Homo sapiens: one gene and its partner. The protein of the gene in region 1 purifies or fractionates together with the protein of each later gene. This does not show direct contact. Each region holds a gene or a part of one and is shown on either strand. Other genes may lie near its edges.

Region 1 (3,819 bases):
GTTGGGCTGGCGGAGCCTCCTCCCTGGTGGTTGGTCATTGTGAGGGATTTGGCTCTGGCCCTCTCCCTGACTCCATGTGTGCTTCAGGGACATTTCCGGAGGAGGCAAAGCTTGTGTGGGGTTTGCTTGGCAGAGACGATCCTCAGATGCTGGGGTGAGGACCACAGCCTCATGGAGGCGGGAGCCCCGTCCCAGGGCCCAGCCCTGAGCAGTCAGAGGAGTGCCAGGCTGTCCGGCCGCTCCCTGTCTCCCTGCATGAGGCCTGTCCTCACCGCCTGCTGCTGTGTGTGTGGTGGGAGGATGCGCCCCTGGATTTAAGCAGAGTCCCTGCCCCACAGTGCCCCCTGCATTCGTCTCACTGCACCCTGAGGCCAGTCCTTTGACTCCTTGTCCTGCAGTTTCCCATCAAGGTGGTCCAGTGGTGCCAGCCGCTCGCGTCAAGGAGAGAGCTCCAAGGGCACCATGCTGCTGGCCCGGCCTTGCTGGCCCGGCTGGGCCTTCTGTAGGGAAGGCCACAGAGCCCTGTCCCAGAGGCCTCCTCCTGGTAGGCACCCAGCCTGGTGTCAGCCTGGGGAACATGTGCTGGAGCGCAGGATGCTTGGATGCTTTTTAATAAGAATCCATTCTTGCTGTGACTGCTGCACGCACAGGACAGCTTCACTCGCCCTTGCAGGTGCATCCTCCAGGGCCAAGGGGTCTGCAGCAGGCAGGCGGCCTCTGTCTTCCTGAGACTCCTCAGATGAAGTTGGAGCTGCCAGTGCCTTGCTGTGAGCAGTCACACTTCCTGTTCACCATCTCCCTGTCATCTTCTGGTTTCTCCTGCACCTCAGGGAGTGGATTGCCCCAACTTCACACGCCAGGAATCGCTGGCGCTGTCCACGGTGCTGGCACTGGTGCCAGTTCCTGCAGCTCTGGTAGTCCGGGAGAGATGTCTGTGTGTAGGTGTGGGTCTGTGAGCTTGTGTGTGCATATTGTCAATGTGCATGCATGTATGTGTGCCGCTGTTCCTATGTGTGCACGTGTCTGTGTATGCCTTTGTGCACACGTGTCTGGTGTATGTGTGCATGCATGTCTGTGTGCATCTGTGCAGGTGTGTGTGGTGTGTATCTGTGCATGCATGTGTGTGCCTTTGTGGTGTGCGTGTGTGTATGTGTATGTGTACGTGTGTGCATGTGTATGTGCCTGAGTGGTGTATGTGTGTGCATGCATGTGTGTGCCTGTGTGGTGTGCGTGTGTGTATGTGTATGTGTACGTGTGTGCATGTGTATGTGCCTGTGTGGTGTATGTATGTGTGTTTTGCATGTGGTCTGTGTGTACATGCATGTCTGGGATGTGTGTGTACATGTGTGTGCATGTGTATCTGTGTACATACGTATGTGCCTGTGTGGTGTCTGTGTCTGTGCATGTGTGGTGTGTGTCCATGTGTCCATGTTCATGTATGTGTGTATGTGTACATGTGTCTGTGTGTGGTGTGCGTGTACATGCATATCTGTTTGCCTGTGTGTGCCTGTGTGTGTACATGTGTGTGCCTGTGTATGATGTGCCTGTGTACACGTCTGTGTGTGGCACTTGTGTACATGTGTGTCTGTGTGTTCACCTGTGTCTATGTGCATGCATGTGTGCCTGTGTGTGTATGTGTGTGCGCCTGTGTGTCTTGTGCCTGTGTACACGTGTCTGTGTGTGGTGTGTGTGTACATGAGTGTCTGGCTGTTTGCCTATGTATATGTGCATGCATGTGTGCCTGTGTGTGTATGTGTGTGCACCTGTGTGTTGTGTGCCTGTGTACACGTGTCTGCCTGTGGCATGGGTGTACATGTGTGTCTGTGTGTTTTCCTGTGTGTCTATGCATGCATGTGCGCCTGTGTATGCATGTGCGCCTGTGTGTTGTGTGCCTGCATACACGTGTCTGCGTGTGGCGTGTTTGTACATGCGTGTCTGTGTGTGTCCTTGTGTGGTGTGTGCATCTCCCAGCTGTACCCTGCAACTTGCCTGTGATACCTGCCTCTCCCTTGGAGTCCCAGAGCTGAAGATGCTGGCTCAGATTTGTTTCCATTGGAAAGAGGCCCCTTTTTCTTCTTACAGCATGGCGTTGGTCTGGTTGGGTGCCTGGTGACTCTGTTGGGGCCGACTTTCATTCTGGCCCCGTGTGTGGGACTGTGTGCAGAACTGGACAGGAGTCATTGCTGTGCTGCAGGAGAAGTGGGGCTGTGTTCATTGACACATGTGGCTTTGACATTTTCTACTCAGATGTGGTAGAATCCTTCCTCCAGAACAGGAGTTGGCACCTCTTTTCCCATCTTCAAGGAAGGACAACGTGCTCAGGAGCGCTTCCCAAGTGAATGACTGAATGAATGAACGAAGGAGGGGAGAGAAGAAGGAAGGAATCAGCCTCATGGAACAGGGAGGTTTAGAGAATCCTGGCAAAGGAAGAGGCGCCGTGCCAGCCAGGTCCTGCGGGAGTGTTGGTGCATGGTGAGGTTGGGGGGTGAGGGTCGGCCCCAGCAGGGAAGGGCAGGTGCAGGGATGGCAAGGCCAGAGCACGTGGGGATGAAGAGATGCGGTACTGCGACGGCTGGAGGAGGGTTGCAGGAGCTGCTCAGACATGGGGGCAGCTGCAGTCTCGGCTGCTTGCAGGTTGGGAGAGAGTCGTGCTTGGTGTACAGCTGGAGAGGGAAGTGGGCCGAGGAGGTGGTGGATGCCCAATGTGCCCATCCCTGACGGCTGGCGCCTCAGTGCACAGCAGGCCTAGGTCTCGATGGGGATGGCCACCGAGGTCAGTCCTGCTGGGCTGCTGCCTCAGAGCTCACTCTACTAATGCTCAGGTGGCTCATCTGTAAAGTGGGCGGCAGCACCGTGAGGACCCAGCCAGGTGACCGATCACATGCAAGGTTCTGATGGAGTCACAAGCTGGTCACTGCCGCTGGTCCTGTCCGCTGGGTGCAGTAGACACGGAGGTAGGGGACCCTTGTGCCTGTGAGAACAGAGCAGACAGGAAGCCGGAGAGGACAGCAGGCACGGAAGCCGGAGGGGACAGCAGGCACGGAAGCCGGAGGGGACAGCAGACAGGAAGCCGGAGGGGTCAGCAGGCACGGAGGCTGGAGGGGACAGCAGACAAGAAGCCAGAGAGGACAGCAGACAGGAAGCCGGAGGGGACAGCAGGTACAGAAGCCGGAGGGGTCAGCAGGTGAGCAGGCATCACTGCGTCAGGGTGTGGGACGAGAAACCACAGCACCCGAAAAGGACCACATGGTCCTTCGTGGCTGGCGCAGGGAAGAAGTGGGGTCCAGGAGGCCACAATGGGGCAGCCGTGGCTCCCTCGTGGTCCGGGCCAGGCGGCGTGGGTGCAGGAGGTACAGCTGCTTCCCGGGTTCTGGGTTCCACATCTTTGATAGCGTTCCTCAGTGAGCGTAACCTGCCCGTGCAAACAACACGGGGCTTGTCGGTGTGGAATCCCTTATGGGTTGCAAGTTCTTTGGGCTGAATTCAGGACCTATCTAAGGAAAAAGCCAATGTTTAATGAAAGTGGAAAAAATAACAATATTGGAGTAAAAGGTGTAGTTTATCTGGTGTCTCCTGATTTTCATAAAGCAGCTTGCTGAACGGCCTTCCCAATGACCTCTCAGCGTGTTTTAGCCCAGCCTTGTTTTGGTGAGAAACTGACTCCGAGAACTGAGTGGGCTGCTCTGAGGTCCCGCCCCCGTCGGGGCAGTGCCGGCCTCTCCGGAAGCCCCTGGGCTGCTCGCATCCCGCTGGGTGTGTTTACCAGTGCTTAATGAAAACTATTGCAGCCGCCCGTGAAGGTAAGGTGTTTGTGAACGC
Region 2 (3,819 bases), on another chromosome or scaffold:
AGGGGGTACATGTGCGGGTTTGTTACAGGGGTGTATTGCATGATACTGAGGTTTAGGATAGGGATCTCATCACCCAAGTATTGAGCATAGTACCCAATAGGTAGTTTTTCAACCCATGACCCCTCCTTCCCTTCCCCATGTAGTAATCCCCAGTGTCTATTGTTTCCATCTTTATGTCCATGTATACCCAATGTTTAGCTCTCACTTATAAGTGAGAACACAGGTATTTGGTGTTCTGTTCCTGCATTAATTTGCTCTGAATTATGGCCTCCAGCTGCATCCATGTTGCTGCAAAGGACATTATTTCATTCTTTTTGGTGGCTGTGTAGTATTCCATAGTGTATATGTAATATATTTTCTTTACCCAGTCCACCAATTATGGCCACCTAGGTTGATTCCATGTCTTTGCTGTTGTGAATAGTGCTGCAATGAACATGCCAGTGCATGTGTCTTTTTGGCAGAACACTTTGGGTTTTTTGGGAGGTATATGCCCAGTAACGGGATTGCTGGATTGGATGATAGTTATGTTTTAAGTCCTTTGACAAATCTCCAAACTACTTTCCACTGTGGCTGAAGTCATTTACATTCCCACCAACAATGTATAAGTGTCCCCTTTTCTCTGCAGCCTCTCCAGCATATATTATTATTTGACTTTTTAATAACAGGCATTCTGATTGGTGTTAGATGGTATCTCATTGTGGCTTTGATTTGCATTTCTCTGATGACTAGTGATGTGTAGCATTTTTTTTTCATATGTTTGTTGGTTGCTTGTGTGTCTTCTCTTGAGAAGTGTCTGTTCATGTCCTTTGCCCATTTATTAATGGGGTGATTTGCTTTTTGCTTGTTGATTTAAGTTCCATATAGATTCTGGATATTAGACTTTTGACAGATGCATATTTTGAGGATATTTTCTCCTATTCTGTAAGCTGACTCTTTACTTTGTTGATAGTTTCTTTTGCTGTGTAGAAACTCTTCAGTTTAATTAGGTCCCTCTTGTCAATTTTTGTTTTTGTTGCAGTTGCTTTTGGGGACTTGGCCAAAAATTCTTTGCCAAGGACAGTGTTGAGAAGGGTATTTCCTAGGTTTTCTTCTAAGTTTTTTATAGTTTGAAATCTTACATTTAAATTTTTAAGCCATCTTGAGTTAATGTTTGTATATGTTGAAAGGTAGGGCAATATGGTTTGGATTGGTGTCCCCACCCAAATCTCATGTCTAATTGTAATCCTCAATCTTGAAGAAGGGGCCTGGTGGGAGGTTATTGGATCCTGGAGACAGATTTCCCCCTTGCCATTCTCATGATAGTGAGTGAGTTCTCATGAGATCTGGTTTAAAAATGTGTGGCATCTTACCCCCCGCTTCCTCCTTCTCCGGCCATGTAAGACGGGCCTGCTTCCCTTTCACCTTCTACCGTGAGGCTTCTCAGCCATGTTTCCTGTACAGCCTGTGGAACTGTGAGCCAATTAAACCTCTTTTCTTTATAAATTACCCAGTCTCAGGTAGTTCTTTATAGCAATACAAGAATGGACTAATACATAGGGGCACAGTTTCAATCTTCTGCAAATGGCTAGCCAGTTTTCCATGCACCATTTATTGTATTCACCTTGCTTGTTTTTCCATTTCTTACTTTTAATTGAGATAGTTCAGTTATCTCTTTTGTCTAGGAGGAGCACAAGCAACTCTAAGACATTTTGGCCAGAGAAAAATGTTTAACGTGTTTTGAGTTGACAATGAAAATGTATATATATAATAATTATACTTTTATCCCATACTATATCATTTTCTCCTCCTTTGGAATATATTTTTAGATATTTAATTCCATGTTACAATAATTATGCCTGTATTTATTGTTAATTTTAACATCGCAAATCCCAGAGGGTAGTACTTGTCATCTTGAATGCATTAATGCCTAGCACCTTGGCACTCCTGTGATGATGTTGTCTGAAATTGGCTTGCTCAGAATAAGACAGAACATGTCCCAGGTCTAGTGGCAGCCAACTGTAGTTAATTGTCTCTAATCAAGATGCCAAGGAGAACTCATTTCTAATAATCTGTGCAACTAGGTAAGGGTGCAGGCTTTTAAAAATACTCATCACCTAAACACACTTGATATTTGGGGGTTTTCATTGGTTATTCTTCTCTGCTGTTAACGAAACTCTTACATAGTTTATGGGGTATTAGCAGGTAATAATAATAGTTTCCAAATTCTTTGTGGGAATTTACAAGCATTTACATTTACATCAACTCATTTCATCTTTAGACCACCTCTAGACAAATACTAATATCTCAGTTTTACAGTGGACAGAATAGAAGCCCACTTAGTTTAAATGACTTGCCTAAAGTTACATAGCTAACATGAAATAGACCTGGGTTCAAACTTGTGTTTCCTGACTTCAAGTCCCATGCTTTCTCAGCTATACCAAGGTGTTGTGACTCTACCCCCGCCTTTGAACTTGGAAATAGAGGGGTATTACCAAGTATTACTGGGTTAGCTCAACCTAATCATAATTGCCCCAGAGGCCACCTCTAATTGATAATATTAAGCATACTTTATTAAGGTTCCATAGAGAACCACTGACAAGGTTTCTACAAGGATATTAACACACACTCCACAGCTTTACTTCTGATTGAGCTCTGTTATTCTCTGGCACAGTCTTCCTAAGACCAATTAATAGTGATCATGGCAGTCAGCCTGTTATCTTAGGATTCAAAGAAAATATCTACATAAATATAGCAGTCAATCCATTGAAGTAGTGACTACAATACTGAACCTGAATAAAATTTAGTTTACTAAATGAAGATATGCAGATTCAATAAATGATTATGGACCAACATTTCATCAGCAACTGCTATAAATGTGAAAAATCATTATTTTTCATATATACACATGATCATCAGACCCACTAAAGGTAATTCATGTGACCAAAACTTTCTGCTGCTAAGAGATTAAAATGCATGTTAATCAGTAGAATTTAAGAAAGCCAGAGTAAAATGTAAATTGTGATGAAATCATTAAAGGAGTAACTTGAAAAACCTTCTATATCCTGGCATAAAAGTGATTATAGCACAGAGGACAGAATATTTTATTTCTTGACCTTGATTATGAGTATTGTTATAGGTTCTTGAATTTTCCTTAGGTCAGAATAGAGACATTAATTCTAAAGCAGTTAGAGAAATTAGTCTCTTTATCTCTTTCCTTATAGTTAATAGCATAGAGAAATAAATCTCTAAACCAATTTGAAACAGGATTTAACTGTCATTTCACTTATGTGTCTCTTCATTTTCTTTTACTCTATAACAGAAGTTTTTAAAAATAAAACTATTTTGATTTTCTTTTCAGTTCTAGGCCTGATTCTTCACTACCTGAGACGTCTAAAAAGGAGCACATCTCAGCTGAAAACATGTCTTTAGAAACTCTGAGAAACAGCAGCCCAGAAGACCTCTTTGATGAGATTTAACAGTCTCAAAAAATACTTTGATGTTCACTAGACTATGTTTTCTATTCATTTCTTTAAAATGAAAAAGGAGAATTTCAAGTCAGCAGCCGCTATTACCGTATCTTACAATTTAATTACATACACAGTGAATTGAAACCATTGTGCAAAATGGATTACACATGTATACAAAGATACGATTTGATGATGACACTGGCACATTATTCTAAACTATTCATTCAGCATGCCTATAATTACATAAATTGTATGAGACTTTTTGTTGCAAAGGACACATTTATCATATTCATTCACACATATTATATGTGATAGCTGTCCAACATCCTGTCTGGGAAGATTTTGAAAACAGGACAAAGAAAACATCATTTTA

What was found.
Region 2: the proteins of ERICH1 (region 1) and XRCC4 purify together in Homo sapiens (affinity purification with mass spectrometry; one large-scale study listed by BioGRID and IntAct). This does not show direct contact.

Annotation. Positions count from the first base shown.
Region 1 is NC_000008.11:724,406-728,224, reverse strand, and holds part of ERICH1 (glutamate-rich protein 1), read left to right. Parts: intron 1-3,819.
Region 2 is NC_000005.10:83,349,788-83,353,606, forward strand, and holds part of XRCC4 (DNA repair protein XRCC4), read left to right. Parts: intron 1-3,337; coding exon of another isoform or gene 3,338-3,343; coding exon 3,344-3,455; 3' UTR 3,456-3,819.